Linked DNA regions of Homo sapiens: region 2 is linked to region 1. The links come from fine-mapping of genetic effects on gene expression. Tissue or cell type: lung. Region 1 holds a variant in brackets; the other region holds the start of a gene. All regions are shown on one strand. Distances are between the middles of the regions.

Evidence for each region. PIP is the estimated chance that this variant, and not a neighbour inherited with it, causes the effect.
Region 2: it holds the start of PIBF1, and the variant in region 1 is fine-mapped to the expression of PIBF1 in lung (TOPMed, PIP 0.94).

The regions. Positions count from the first base shown.
Region 1 is chr13:72,911,472-72,919,659 of GRCh38, forward strand. It overlaps PIBF1 (progesterone immunomodulatory binding factor 1), which reads left to right. Exons shown (of 18, transcript NM_006346.4): 13 at 5,605-5,695. Among named protein-coding and RNA genes, the nearest start is that of PIBF1, 130 kb to the left of the region's middle. The variant T/C (reference allele first, on the strand shown) is at 4,049.
Region 2 is chr13:72,778,664-72,786,851 of GRCh38, forward strand. PIBF1 (progesterone immunomodulatory binding factor 1) reads left to right here and starts at 3,470. Exons shown (of 18, transcript NM_006346.4): 1 at 3,470-3,686; 2 at 4,760-5,058. The coding sequence starts at 4,807. DIS3 (DIS3 exosome endoribonuclease and 3''-5'' exoribonuclease) reads right to left here and starts at 3,237. Exons shown (of 21, transcript NM_014953.5): 1 at 2,942-3,237; 2 at 2,183-2,340. The coding sequence starts at 3,169. RefSeq lists enhancers at 2,429-3,343, 3,261-3,370 and a silencer at 2,931-2,980.

The sequences.
Region 1 (8,188 bases):
CTGAGACGATACCTAAATGGAATAGCTAAAACTATAAATATGTAACAGAAAACATAGGTGAGTTATCTTTACAACGTGGAGTACATTAAGACTTTTTTTGACATGGCCCTTGAATGTAATTATCATAAAAGAAAAACTGATAAAGTAGATGTCATCAAAATTTAAAACTTCTGTTCTTCAAAAGACACCATTAAGAAATGAATAGCCAAGCCACAGACTCAAAGAAAATAACCACAATTTTATATCTGACAAAAGAATGATACCCAAAATAAGAAAATATTGAGGAGAAAATATTCACAAAACATAGATTAAACAAAAGAAAATGATACCCAAATGTGGTGGGCTGAAAAACATCCTTCTAGAGATGTCCATGTCCTGTTGGGCATAGTGACTCATGCCTGTAATTCCAACACTTTGGGAGGCTGAGGCAGGTGGATCACTTGAGCTCAGGAGTTCAAGATTAGCCTGACATGGTGAGACCCCATCTCTAGAAAAAAAGAGAAAGAGAGAAGGAAAGAAAGGAAGGGAAGAAGGAAGGAAGGAAGGAAAGAGAAAGGAAAAGGAAGGAAGGAAAGAAAAGAGAAAAGAAAAGAAAGATGTCCATGTCCTCATCTTTGGAACCTCTGAAAAAGCTGGAAAAGGCAAGGAAACAGATTTCACCATAGAGCCTTCACACAGAACCAGCCCTACAAAGCATTGACTTCAGGTCAGTGAGGCTGATTTTTGGACTTACTACCTGTAGAGCTATAAAATAATAAATTTGTATTGTTTAAACCATAAAGTCTGGCAATCTGTTAACGTTAGCAGTAGGAAATTAATGTACCAGAATATATATTTAAAAATTCATGTAACTCAGTGATTAAAAAAAAAATAGTCCTGTTTAAAACATGGGCAAAAGGTTTAAACACTTCACAAAGGAAGACATGTGAATGACAAGTAAGCATAATAAAAGTATTCAACATTACTAGTCATGAGGGAAAAGCAGATTAAAAGCCCAGTGAGATACCACTGTATACCCACAAGAATGGCTGAAATTAGAAAGACTGACTATACCAAATGTTGGTGAGAAGTGGAGCAACTGGCAGTTTCTTACAAAATAATTAAACAACCTAATCAGTGATCCAGCATTTCCGTTACTTACCCAAGAGAGAAGAAAGCATATGCACCTTAAAAGATTTCCTCTAGAATGTTCATAGGAAATGTATTCATAATAGTCAAAAACTGACAACAGCCCAGGTGTGTATCTCAAAGGAAAATGGTTAATCAAACCATTATACATTCATGTAGTAGAATACTTCTCCTCACTGGAAGGAAACAATTGACTTACTTAACAACATGGATGAATCTGAAAAACATAAAGTGTACTTTATATAATATAGTATGATTATACTGTATGATTATAGTATGTGGTATGATTATACTATATGATTATAGTATATGGTATGATTATACTATATGATTATAGTATATAGTATGATTATACTGTATGATTATAGTATATAGTATGATTATACTATATGATTATATAAAGTTCTAGAAGAGACAGAAGTAATCTATGATGAAAAAAATCAAGGGGTGGGGGTAAAAATTTTTTTTTTTATTTTTAAAAAGACAAAAATCAGAACTGTAGTTGTCTCTAAAGATGATTGTCACCAAAAATTAACTGAGAAAAGTGACATGGAACTTTCCAGGGTATTCAGATGTTCTATATATCTTGATAGGGTTTGTGTTAAACACATGTCTGTACATTTCAAAACTTTTACATTTCAAAACTCGTTGAATGGTAGACTTAAAAAATAAAAATAAAATTTATACATGGTGAAAGTTACAAATCTTATTTTTTAGAAAATAACTGTAAATACATATTGAATTATAATTGATGATTTGCATGTTAAACTGTTGAGGAGTGAAGTGTGCAAATGTCCACAACTTTCTTTGAAATGCATCAAAAAAACATTCATGGAAACGGGTGGATATATGTATAATAAACACATAGTATGTTTGATTTAGAATCCAGATGTTGGAGCCAGGCACAGTGGCTCATGCCTTTAACCCCAGCATTTTGGGAGACCAAGGCAGGACGATTGCTTGAGCCCAGAAGTTCAAGGCCAGCCGGGGCAACCTGGCAAGACCATCTCTACAAAAAAATAAAAAATGAACCAGGCATGGTGGTGCCAGCTACATGGGAGGGTGAGGTGGGATGATCGCCTGAGCCCTGAACGTCAAGGCTGCAGTGACTGTGTTCACGCCACTGCACTCCAGTCTGGGTGACAGAATGAGACTCTGTCTCAAAAAAAAAAAAAATTGCAGATGTTGAGTATATGGATGTATACTGTACATTTTTTCAGTGTGTCCACATGTATAAATATTTTCTTAAAAGCTGCAGAAAAATAGAAATTAATTTTTGTTATGATACTATCTAAACCAACTTCAAATAAAATAGATTTACCTGTACTAGAAGATCAGTAACTAGGTTCTCTATCAGTTCACATTGGAAATTAAAATATACCTTGTCCTTATTTAATGAATACTTATCGATTAACTAAAATTTCAAAGAAGTGAGCACAGACTTTTTTTAGTACTACATTGTGTACAATTTTCAAAGGCTTGCCATTTAATTCAGGTAATTTCGGCTGACTTTTTTCAACAGACTATTTTTAGTACTACATTGTATACAATTTTCAAAGGCTTGCCATTTAATTCGGGTAATTTTAGCCGACATGAAGGTGATTAGCCTTCATTTATTAAGGTGTAACCATAGCAAATTAAAGTATCTTATTTATACTTGTATTGCTTTCTGTAATCAAATAAGTATTATTTGGATATTTGAGTTTAGTTTTCAAAGATTTCATCAAGTTGTTAAAAGTATAAGTATTGTCTAAAAGCTAAATAAACTCATATTAGAAAAAAAAAACAACCTAGATTTCTAGTTGTTAAATTCAGTTACCTGCCACACATCCTCATCATACTTATAACCTTCACTAGGCATTTGTCGAATTTCTCAGAACTCCCTTCTCTTTGCTTCTTGAATCACCTGCCTTTGTTTATTTTCCATCACTTAACTTCTGGATAATCTTTTCCCTTTCCGCAACTTCAGTTACTATCAATAGGCTAGTAATTTCTATAGTTAGACACAGGGTCTCACTGTGTTGCCCAGGCTGGAGTGCAGTGGTACAATCATAGCTCACTGCAGTCTCAAACTCCTGGGCTCAAGTGATTCCCCCTGCCTCATCCTCCCAAGTAGCTGAGACTACAGACACATGCCATCATGCCCAACTAATTATTTTTTGTAGAGACACGGTCTCACTATGTTGCCTAGAGTGATCTCAAACTCCTGGCCTCAAGGGATCCCCCTGCCTGGGCCTCCCAAAACGCTGGGATTATAGGCATAAGCCACCATGCACAGCTGAAAATTTAACATTATTTGCATTTCCTCTTTCTTCCCTGAAACTTCCTAATTTTTCTGTACAGTTGCTCTCTCTATTAGCAGATACTGCATCTCAGATTTAATCACCTGTGGATTGAAAATATTGGGGAAAAGACAATAATAAAAAATAATACATTTTTAAAAATACAATATAACAACTATTATATATAGCATGTACATTGTGTTAGGTATTGTAAGTGATGCAGACATGGTTTAAAGTGTATGTGAAGGTGTAGATATGTTATATGCAGATATATATATATATACCATTTTATATAAGGGACTTAATCCTGTGGATTAAAACTTCACATACCTTACAAGTCTATGCTTCTGCACATGGACTTCTCTCCTATTCCTTCACTGAATCTCAGTCTCCCCATATCTACCCTATACCTTGTAGCATGGGAAATAGTGGCACTCAGATGCAGTTGCCCTGCGCTCTGCTTCTAAGACACATTGTTCAGATCTCTTTAATAGCATTGTTCAGATCCCTTTAGTAGCATTGACCAAGTTGTATAATACATTGTTTCTGTAATTAATCCCTGCTAGAATAGTTATCCCATGATTTATTAATCCATTAAGTATTAAACTCACATTTAGCATGTCCATTAATATCTAACT[T/C]ATGGGTTTTTGAGATGTGAACTAAATTTACCCCTCTCTCCTCTGAATTTAGAACTATTAAGGAGAAACAAGAGTCAGTTACATATCTAAATGTTAGCTCTAGTTCCAGTAGAGCTTATTTGGAGAACTCATCTTGGATCTGGACTTACCTGCTAGCTGATCATAGTATTGGTAATGGCATGTATCATCTCTTCCATGTGTCTCTCTCAACTAATAATTCTTCCTCAGAAAGCTAATCCTGATTCACCATGAAAGATAGGGACAAAATTAAAAGAAAACAGTTAATAAATGTTTCTAAAATCTTTACTACAGAAGGGCCAATCAACAAATGTATCCCTATTACATTGATAGGCATGCAGAAGATGAAACATCATGATGGTTGTAAAATATGTGGCTTTGTTTTAATTCTGAAATATTCCTGAAAGTGAATATCTTTTTAACATTAAAATAATGGCTGGTGATAAATAATATTATGAAAGTTTTTATATGTCAATGACTGCTTTTACTTGAGCTATTAAAACTATAGCCTTTGATGAAATACTTTTTTTGGTGTTTTGGGGGTTTTTTTTGATGATGAAATGTTTTTTGGCCAGGTGCGGTGGCTCACACGTGTAATCCCAGCACTTTGGGAGGCTGAGGCAGGCAGATCACCTGAGGTTGGGAGTTTGAGACCAGCCTGGCCAACATGGCGAAACCCTGTCTCTACTAAAAATACAAAAAAAATTAGCCGGGCTTGGTGGTGGGCACCTGCAATCCCAGCTACTGGGGAGGCTGAGGCAGGAGAATCGCTTGAACCTGGGAGGCAGAGGTCGCTGTGAGCAGAGATCACGCCATTACACTCCAGCCTGGGCAACAAGAGCGAAACTCCATCTCAAAAAATATATATATATATATATTTTTTTAATCCCAACTTGCAGTAAAATGTCATTGCATTTCAAGTTTTTTACCCAGAAGATGTTAACCTGTTAGTTAAAATTCCTTTTGGGAAGTAGTGTGACAATAGCAGAATTTAAAAGTAAATTATTTTCACATAATTTTTTTACATTTAAAAAAAGTAAGGCCATCAATACATGCTTAGAGCTGCACAGTTTTTAATAGAGTAACCTACATAAGTACATAATTTTATTGTTGCAAATTAAAATAAAGTTGTTCTGATAAAATAATATTTGTCCTAATTTAAAAATCATTTATCAAGAACAGAATTGATGACTTTGATATGTTATCATTATTTGTTATATTACATAGCATATTTCATGCAAAAAGCCTTTGAGTCCTTCAGAATAATACATGTATTATTATACTTTTTAACAAGAAAACCTAACATGATATGATGCAATCCCTTATACATTTCAAAAATAAATGGAGCAAATTCAAGCAAGGATATACTTTAAGAAATATGTTTCTACTTACAAATGGGCTGTTTAAGATTACATATTAGCCCTTTCTAATGTTTTTATCCTCCCTAATTTGTTATAACCTCCTTTATTTTCACTTCTGCCATCTTTTTTAAAGGAAAAATAAAGTTATTTCACATTATACACTTTAATATTTTCCAGTTGAAAATGAAGATGAGGCTGAAAGGGTTCTTTTTTCCTACGGCTATGGTGCTAATGTTCCCACAACAGCCAAAAGACGACTAAAGCAAAGGTAAAATCAATATATATTTATTTTATTTATCTACTCAAGATGAATGTAATTACATTTGTGCTTTCTGATAATGTGCTGAGTTCAGTGACAAAGTCCTTTATTCTTACTCTGCATAAATATTAAATTTCTCACAAAATAAAACACTAATAATCATGTATTTCATATATATTTAAATAAATTTAGTGGTTTGTAGAAGTGTGCATAAGAATTTATGTAGAATTAGATTCGATGATAAGGACCTTGTTTTTATTTTCACATTAATTTCAGATGAGCTACAAATGCTTTGTATCAAGAATATTCAGATTAAAATTCATTGTGCTTTTTTTTTTTCTTTCTCTCATTTTTATTCAACTGCCTACATTCCTTCACATACATGTTAGGGAGAGTGATTTGGAATTAATGCATATATTGTAATTGAAACTATGAAAGGCTTTACAAAACCAAGAGAATATTTAGAAGACCCACTAGTTATCTTGTGAGATAATGTTTAAAAGTACAGTCAGCCCTCTATATCCATGGGTTTCACATGTGTGAATTCAACCAACCGCTTATCAAAAATATTCGCGAAAAGAATGGATGATTGCATCTATGCTGAGTATGTGCCGACTTTTTTTCTTGTCATTATTCCTTAATACAGTTATTCACATAGCATTTACATTTTGTTAGGTATTATAAGTAATCTAGAGATGATTTAAAGTATATGGGAGGATATGCGTAGGTTGTATGCAAATATTATACCAATTGTATGTAAGGGACTTGAGCACTCATGGATTTTGGTATCCACAGGAGGTGGAGAATGTACACTGGAACCATGCATCCCGTGGATACCAACAGACAACTGTATGCTAACAGAAAATTATACCTACATTAATCAGGTTTCCAGTTGACCTGCCTGATTTTTATTCCTAACTCCTCTCTTGCACGAAAATTTATCCTGCTTTGCAAAAACATCTCACGGCCCCATTCACTACCACATCAAATCCATCAAATCTAAATGTTTCTTTCAGACTTCCACGCGCCTCTATAATGTAGCTCTATCTCTCCAGCCTTATTTGCCTCTCTACCCAAAGTGCAGTGGATATACCTATTTCTCTGCCTATAAAGCAACTGTTTTCTCTGTACCACACAGCAGAGCATTTCTCTTATCTCATTAGCTATCATTTCCTGTGTAATTTACCCATCTAGATGGAAAGTTCTTCGAGGTCAGCAACTACCTATTTTTTTTTTTTTTTTTTTTTGAGATGGAGTCTCATTCTGTCACCCAGGCCTGGAGTGCAATGGCACAGTCTCAGCTCACTGCAACCTCCACCTTCCAGGTTCAAGCAGTTCTCCTGCCTCAGTCTCCCAAGTAGCTGGGACTACAGGCGTGCACCACCACACCCTGCTAATTTTTGTATTTTTAGTAGAGATGGGGTTTCACCATGTTGGTCAGGCTGGTCTTGAACTCCTGGCCTTGGCCTCAAGTGATCCACCTGCCTCGGCCTTCCAAAGTGCTGGAAACACAGGAGAGATCCACCATGCCCAGTCTAGCAACTACATCTTTTTTTTTTTTTTTTGAGACAGAGACTCACTGTGTCACCCAGGCTAGAGGCAGTGGCACGATCTCAGCTCACTGCAACCTCCACCTCCCAGGTTCAAGCAATTCTCCTGTCTCAGCCTCCCGAGTAGCTGGGATTACAGGCATGTGCCACCATGCCTGGCTAATTTTTGTATTTTTAATAGCGACAGGGTTTCACTGTATTGGCCAGGCTGGTCTCAAACTCCTGACCTCAAGTGATCCACCCACCTCGGCCTCCCAAAGTGCTGGGATTACAGGCATGAGCTACCACGCCGTGCCAACTACATCTTATTCTTGTTTATTTTTCACTTTCTCTATCTAACTCAGTGCAGGATACCTAGTAAAATTGTTTCTTCATCAGAGCGTTTGAGAATTCAGAGTTGCTTTTTTTTATGTGAACTGATTTAGACATTTAGAGACATTGTACACTAAGAAAATGACTCAGAAAATAGAACATCTATATGGCTATCTAAAATGATGTATCCTCATTAATATAGTGGTGAATAAAAAAATAAAGTGATGTAGAATATAGAGCACTTTATAGAAAGCAAGAAAAGGATAGTTAGAACTTATGGCTCTTACCAGTTAAACTAAATATATGCCAAATTTTGATCAAGGCGAGCTGAATAGAAAGTATATATTTGTAGCTGGAATGTTTAATTCTGTCTGGTGAGGATTCAGATATTTCAGAATTATGTATTTTTAAAAAATCAGTCCCATTCCCATTTCCTCTAAAAGTCACAATGGGTAACCTAGGATATTTTGTAATTTTCAGCATATCTGTTTCTTAGTCCAATGTTGCCTAAGGAAGAATAGAACATAGTTTTGTGGGTAAGAGACTTATCAGTAGTAAATGATAGGTAAAATACTAAAACTTGAAATTTAAAGGGAAAGGTCATATTCTTTTCTCTATTTTGGCCTCTGAATCCTTCAAA
Region 2 (8,188 bases), 130 kb before region 1:
TATACTTTAGGTTGAGACACTAAATAATAGTTTGTTGACAAATTATAATACAATTTCACAGGTATGATAATCAGATTTCATTCAAACTGTAGGTTAATAGCAATTCCTAAAAGCTACAAATAGTATAATTAGATCATTTATAATCAGAATTCTACAGTCATTAATAAATAATGCATATAAATTATCCATGGTAAACACTAATAGCTGAAGCTATGTAGAGACTGAAAAGTCAGGTATATTAATAGATATTACGTATTTCTTCTATCTAAACTCCCAAGTATGTCAACACATTCATCTATTTCTTTAAATCTGTTCATCAAAGCCAGGTTTAAGTACAACAGCAAAGTTCACTACAATAGCTTCCAGTACTTAATGGTAATAGATTCAATTTAATAATTTGATTTATATTAATAGTTTTAGAATTATTTTATTCCTCATCGTTGAATGCACTTGCTAATGCTTTTTTTTTTTTTTTGAAACAGAGTCTTGCTCTGTAGCTCAGGCTGGAGTGCAGTGGCATGATCTCAGCTTACTGCAACCTCTACCTCCGGGTTCAAGTGATCCTCCCAACTCAGCCTCGCAAGTAGCTGGGACTAGAGGCATGTACCACCATAACCAGCTAATTTTTGTATTTTTAAGAGACAGGGATTTTCCAGGTTGGCTAAGCTGGTCTGGAACTCCTGGCCTCAAGTGATCTGCCCACCTCAACCTCCCAAAGTGCCAGGATTACAGACATAAGCCACCACGCCCAGCTGCTAATGTTTTAAGCTCATCAGTGAAAGACACAGTCATAAATTTTTGAATTGGTTTTAAACTTGGGTCTTTCTGCACTGAAAAACAAGTGATGTTGCTATTTCTGGATTTCAAGGAGGTACTAACAATAAGAAGCCTACAAGGGCTTTACTGGTATTCTTTACAAGAACATTGAAGTTTGAGATATAAGAATCAAGAAAGTTGAGATATTAAGGTTTTTAAAAATGTGCATAATCTGATGGAATTTCATTACCAGAAGTCTACACTCTAATCCAATGGTTCTCAATTGAGTGAATTCACCCCTCAGGGCATTTTGTATCATTACAACTGAGTGGTGGTGGTGGTGGTGGTGGTGGGGGGGGTAAGGGGTGGTGATCCTGCCAAATAGGCTAGGAACACTGTTAAACATACTACAATGTATAAAACAGCCTTTCCACCACAAAAAAATTATTCAGTTCAAAATATCTATAATGCCAAGATTGAGAAGCCCTGATCTAATCCAATAAAAGTACCATACTCATCATAGATTATTTATGTAATATAACGTAATAGGCAATATCATATTTTTGAGACCACACACTGAGTTCAAAGGTCTTGAATCTAAAAGCACAACAAAGAATTATATTCCTGGCCAGGCACGGTAGCTCATGCCTGTAATCCCACCACTTTGAGAGGCTGAGGCAGGTGGATCACGAGGTCAGGAATTCGAGACCAGCCTGACCAACATGGTGAAACCCTGTCTCTACTAAAAATACAAAAATTAGCCTGGCATAGTGGTGCGTGACTGTAATCCCAGCTACTCAGGAGGCTGAGGCAGAAGAATCGCTTGAACTTGGGAGGTGGAGGTTGCAGTGAGCAGAGATCACACCACTGCACTCCAGCCTGGGTGACAGAGTGAGACTCCATCTCAAAAAAAAAAAAAAAAAAAAAAAAAGAATTCTATTCCTTAACCTAATCTTGCTCAATGTAATCAGCTGCAAAGTATTAAACTTTTAAAAAGACCATTAAGAATAAATCTACTTTCTATTTTTAAACAAAATAGAAACTTCACAAACTCATATATTTTATTACCCTCTGTTAGTTGTTCACATAATATGGTATTCCAGGAACTTAAGCAAATCTCATCTTCCAAGATTCTATGGTCCAACTCATGCTAAAACCAATTCAAAATGAAAACATTTTGGAAATTAAAGTACCTATTGTAGTCTAGGAGTCAGCAGACCTTGGTTTTAGGCTTGAGCCCATCAATGCCTGTGTGACCTTAGAGAGATCCACTTAGCATTATCTTCTGCACAGCCATGTAAGAATTAAATAAGGTATGAAATCTATCACTTATCTTCTGACAATGTCATAAATTACTCACAGGAACCCTCTCCCGAATTTTGCTAATCCTGTGGTTTTCTGATATTTAACGTAATATTCCTCCTACCTATGGTGCTCATTAGTGAAAGTATAGAAATGCTTCTCTTGGTTATTAGTCACATCTCGGATGCGTTTATATACGGGGGCACTGCGATTTCTCACTTCTTGAAGAACTGTTTGTAGCACAATTACATTCCTGATGGCAGGGTCCTCAAGAACATCAATCTTAAAGAAAGATAAAGTTAATTTTTCCTATATTCATTTGTAAATAGCTCTGTCAAACATAAAATCCTGTTTTATGTTGGGCATAAATACTTTATGTTTTAAAAACACTGAATAAGTTAAGCCAAGAAGCTATTTGGCTATAGAAAACGAGACAATAGTCACTAAACCCTTCAGATCTATTAAAAAAAGCACACTTAAACAGACCAATCACAAGACTTCGTAGAATTAAGGGTATTAATAAAGGAATACGTTGGCCCACATAGTTTTTTGTTCCTAGGCACTTACAAGCTGCCTGGGAGTCGCAGGCTGGAGGCCACAGAAGCCCAGGTCCCCGGCCTCCAGGCACTTACAATCTAAGGCAGAAGAGACACCAGGAGTTAGAAAAATAACGTGTCTGAACTACGACTCCAAGAACTAAATTTTTTAAAGCACAAGGAAAAGAACCTCGGCCTGGGGAACAGGAAGCTTCGGTCCCGAGGGGGTTTCCCTTTCGCTAGGTATGTGACACTGCCAAAGACCCGCCTCCCTGGGCCTCAGTTTCCCTGTCATACCCCCTTGTCCCCGTGGGGCCGCGCTGTCCGCGGTTCGCCCGCCCACGCACCTGGTGCAGTAACACATTAGTGTCGGGCAGCAAGTAGTGCGGTTGCGGGCAGACGCTGCTCGCCGGGTCCTGGGGCTGCGGCTCCAGGGCCGGCCCCTCGTGCGCCCCTCCACACGCTGCGCACCCGGGCGCACCGCAGCCGATGTCGTCTCGCAGGTAGTGCTCGCGCACGATCTTCATCACGCCGCCCGCCCGGGTCTTTTTTAAGAACGTCTTGGACTTGAGCATCTTGCCTCGCCGCGCAGAATCCTAACCCCAGCAGCGCTCTTCCAGCAAAAGGCGTCAATCTAGAATACGCCTAACCCCGGAGGTTCTTCCCTTTCCATTCCCGGATATTAGTAACACTTCTCGCGGGAAAATGCCGAGATAAACATTGGTTGGCTCTCTGACGGCCGCGGGGATTGGGCGAGAGTGGGGAGGGGCGGCAAAGCAAGGCGAGGAGCCATTTCCGCCCGTGGCCTAGGCGGGGCTTCCTTCTGGACGCCACCTCACAACGTGTGTTGCTTTCCGCTCCTCGGAACATCCGGGAGAGTTGACTTCCGGCGGCTTGTGGGAGTGCTGGTTCTGTCCTCCTTGCGGGTGCGGAGATGGTTGTCTTGGTTACGGGTCCTAACGGTCCCCTGCCTTGAAATCCCTTGTTGAGGGCCTGCAACCTTGTGCTTCCGACCGGAGACGCCTTTGGTCCCTCGGTGTCTGCACTGGCTGCTGGTCAAGGCTTCAGTGTGGAGTAATTGACACTTTCGAGGTAACTTGCGACTATCATCGCTTTCTTTCCCGCGTGGGGCAAGGAATCCCCCGAGCTGCCAAGTTTGGGGCTTAATTTTCACGCCGAGTGTATAGGCAGTCCCCGTCTCGGGCCCTTTGTAATCGAGGAGAGAATTTGTCTTTGAATTCACTTTTTCTTACCTATTTCCCTTCAAAAAGAAGGAGGGAGGCCGATCTTAGTATAGTTCTCGCTGTTTCCCCTCCACACACCTTTCCTTATCATTCAGTTTAGAAAAACTGAAATATTTAATAGCATAATTTGTTATATCATGAGGTATTAAAACAAGGTAGTTGCTAACATTCTTATGAGAGAGTTAGAAGTAAGTTCTATTTAGAATTTCTTGAATTTTTCTTATATCCTGTTGTTTTCATTCTGCTATCTATAAAAAATGTTTTTGTCCCCGTTTTCCCTATTTAAAACATCTTCAATGATGCCTCATTGCCTGTAGAATAAAATCCAACCCTATTTTGACATTTAAGGCCTTCCAGTCTTGATCGTTAAGGGCGTGTGTGTGTGTGTGTGTGTGTGTGTGTGTGTTTGTGTTTGTGTTGGGGGGGCGGTGAAAGGAGTAACTATTCCAAGACTTGGCTTTGTTTTTTTACTTCCACTTACGTATCATTAATAACTGCATGATTTCTCCTTTTTACCATGCCTGTCCAAATCTTTAAAGATTCTAAGTGCTACCTCTGTGTAACGTTTCCCTGACCAACTCAGACGTGATTTCTGTTATCTTTGAGCATGTGTTGGTTTTAGTGGTGCCATTCTTGATTATAATGGGCTTTTTTCTTCATCTTGTACATTTCTTTGTTTCCTCCAAGTAAGATTCCTCCCCGCAGGAACTGTTTTTTTAAGTTTCTCGAAGGCTGACTTCATATTAGGAATTAATGTGTTTGATTTGAGCATTAACTTAACTGCAATAATCTGTTCTAGATTTGGGATGCACTAAATTGCCTAATATTTATTTAAGGAATCCTTAGTCTCTCTTTAATACAGTCCATGATTTCTGTAGTTAATTTTATAGTACATTTGAATTAATGTTTTTTAACCTACAGAATATTAAAATCAAATTAGAGAAGAAAACTGATCCATAATAATAAAAATGTCTCGAAAAATTTCAAAGGAGTCAAAAAAAGTGAACATCTCTAGTTCTCTGGAATCTGAAGATATTAGTTTAGAAACAACAGTTCCTACGGATGATATTTCCTCATCAGAAGAGCGAGAGGGCAAAGTCAGAATCACCAGGCAGCTAATTGAACGAAAAGAACTACTTCATAATATTCAGTTACTAAAAATTGAGCTATCCCAGAAAACTATGATGATCGACAATTTGAAAGTGGATTATCTTACAAAGGTAAGATCAGGTTTAAATTTTGTGTTCTATATGCTTTATTGTCTTCAAACGGCAGGTAAATAAGAATTAAATACACACATTATCTGAACTTGAAATGATACATTTATATTTCTTGACAAGTACAGCCTTTAAATAATTTTGGTGTTCATAGAAGTAGAGAATAGAATGGTGGTTACCAAGGGCTGGCATGGTTAGGGGTGAAGGAGGGTTGGGGAGATGTTGGTCAAAGGATACATAATTACAGTTGAATAGGAGGAATACATTCAAGAGATCTATTGGACAGCATGGTGGCTATAGTTAATGACATTGTAATCTTGGAAAACATTGTGTTTTTGAAAAACACAGCAGATGTTAAGTGTTCTCATTACTAAAATAACTATGTGAGGTAAAACATTTTTTAATTAGCTAGAGTTAACCATTTCACAATGTACGTATACTTCAAAACATTATGTTGTACATGACATATACACACAGTTTTATCTGTCAGTTGGGATCACCTGAGGTCAGGAGTTTGAGACCAACCTGGCCAACATTGTGAAACCCCAGCTCTACTTAAAAAAAAAAAAAAAAAAAAATTAGCCAGCCATGATGGTGGGTGCCTGTAATCCCAGCTGCTCGGGAGGCTGAGGCAGGAGAATTGCTTGAACCCAGGAGGCAGAGTTTGCAGTGAGCCACAATCGTGCCACTGCACTCCAGCCTGGGCAACACAGCAAGACTCTCAAAAACTAGTAATAATAATAATAATAATAATTGGAGGCCAAGTGCGGTGGCTCACACCTGTAATTCCAGCACTTTGGATGCTGAGGCCAGTGGATTGCTCCAAGCTCAGGAGTTCGAGACTACCCTGAGCAACATGGTGAGACCACCCTTGCTACTAAAAAAATAAAATAGCCCCGCGTAGTGGTGCTGCGCCTGCAGGCCCAGCTACTTCCGAGGCTGAGGCGGGAGAATCACTTGAATCCGGGGGCAGACATTGCAGTGAGCTGAGATCGTACCACTGCACTCCAGCCTGGGTAACAGAGTGAGACCCTATCTCAAAAAAATAATAATAATAATTTAAGTATTGAAATATGGAGTGATTTAAACGTAGATATGGATAAATTACTTTTGTAGGCTCAATTTAAAAAATCTAACATATGAGGTATTTTGTTGTTTTTTGTTGTTGTTGTTGGAGACAGTCTTGCTCTGTCACCCAGGCTGGAGTTCAGTGGCACAATCTTGGCTCACTGCAACCTCCACCTCTTGGGTTCAAGCAATTCTCCTGCCTCAGTCTCCCACGTAGCTGGGATTACAAGTGCTCCCCACCATGCCCAGCTAGCTCTCTGGGATCACTTTTATAAGGGCACCAATCCCAACAGTGAGGGTTCTACCCTTATAACCTAATCACCCCAAAGGCCCCAACTTCCTGCTACTCACATTGGTGATTAGGTTTCAATATACAAATTTTGAGGGGAGAAAAAAAAATAAGCACACAAGACGTATTAGCCGTTGTTGTTTTCAACTAACATAGCATCCTTATCTGTTTCATCCCTTTCATTTTCTGTGCCTTTTATGGCCATCGGACTGAATTTGTTTGTTATTTGTCTGTGAATAGACTATGAGGTCCATGAGGACGGGGATGTTTTTGTATTCATGGTTGTATTTCCAGCACTTAGAACGGTGCCTGACACAAATTAAGTGCCCAGCTATTTCTTAAATGAATGACTGAACCCCATTTTGCTCTGATTAAACAAAGCCACTAGGTGGTTAATAGCATACCCAAGGCCATTCAGATGAAAGTGATAGAGCCAGATAGGATTCAAACCTAGGAAGTCTAAAGCCTATACTCTACACAAGTGAAGCTCCAAACACTTTCTTTTAGGTACCCTATACAGTCACCTACCTAGTCTAGGTCACTTGGTAGTTTATCCATGCATCCAGTGGTTTCCCATCCCTATTCCCTTACTCTTTTTGCATTTCACATGAACTCCATCTACCTTCACCTCTCCAGACCTTAGTGCAACTCATTGAAGAAACCTGAGGTTATCTCCCATTCATTAATTCACCCACTCAGTCAACAAGTATTTTTTTAAGTGCCACCTGTATACCATATCCAGACTTACATTTTGTTCAGCCACCTCTTGTATTATTTGTTTTCAACTTGCATTGTCCTTGGTTGTCAATGGCTTTGCTTCTTTTTAGGTGTAAGCTTTATATTATAGAAATGTTGGTTGATTCATGACAGGCTCTCTAGTGTAACAAATCCAAATTACAGTTCTAGATGCACACAGTTTGGGTTTTGAATTCCAGCCTTACTAAATTCCTTAATGTTTTTATTCCGTGATTTCCTATAAAATGATAATAGTATTTATTCCGTGGAATTATCGGGAGGATTAATCAATGTATGTAAGCTCATAGATGCTTGGTGTATACTAATAATAAACTTATTATTTACATATTATTTTATTTGTAGCTATACTTACTCAGCACAATATTATTATTTTTCTACTTCCATGGTGCTTAGTGTAGTTTTTGTTGTGGTTTTCTAGTTTGACTGAAAATGTAGAAGATTGCAATAGTCGTGTTCCTGAGTTTGACACATAATCATCATTGATCCCTGAAAGGCTGCTGTTTTTCTAATGTATTTATTCTTTTCATTCCTATAGCTCATTCCATTTCTTAATGCAAACATTTTAATGTTTTGTTTACATGTATTCTTGAGAATGTGTATCTTTTAACTTTACAGAAATGTAAATTATATGCTTTGTTTTAGTTCTCATCTCTTTTTTCCTACTCAGCACTGTTTTTGAAGTTATCTATTACTTTGTATACATCTAGTCCTTTGCTTCCAACTCTTATGTAATTCTTTGTGTGCGTCTACCAGTCTTTCTACTCCTACATTGCTAGGCATCCAGATTGCCTCCAGCTCCTTGCAACACATGCAGCATTAGACATTTCTCTTCTGGACCTCTGTGAGCATGTCTTTGACATATATAAATGTCTCCTTCATTTAACTAAGTGTACTGCCAGGTTATCTCCAAAATAGCTGCCCTGCTGTATATTAGTAGAGTTTTTTTCTCTATCATACGAGCACTCAGGATTCTCTGCTTGAAGACTCTTTAGGAATAAGATGTTTGCTCTCAAATATATG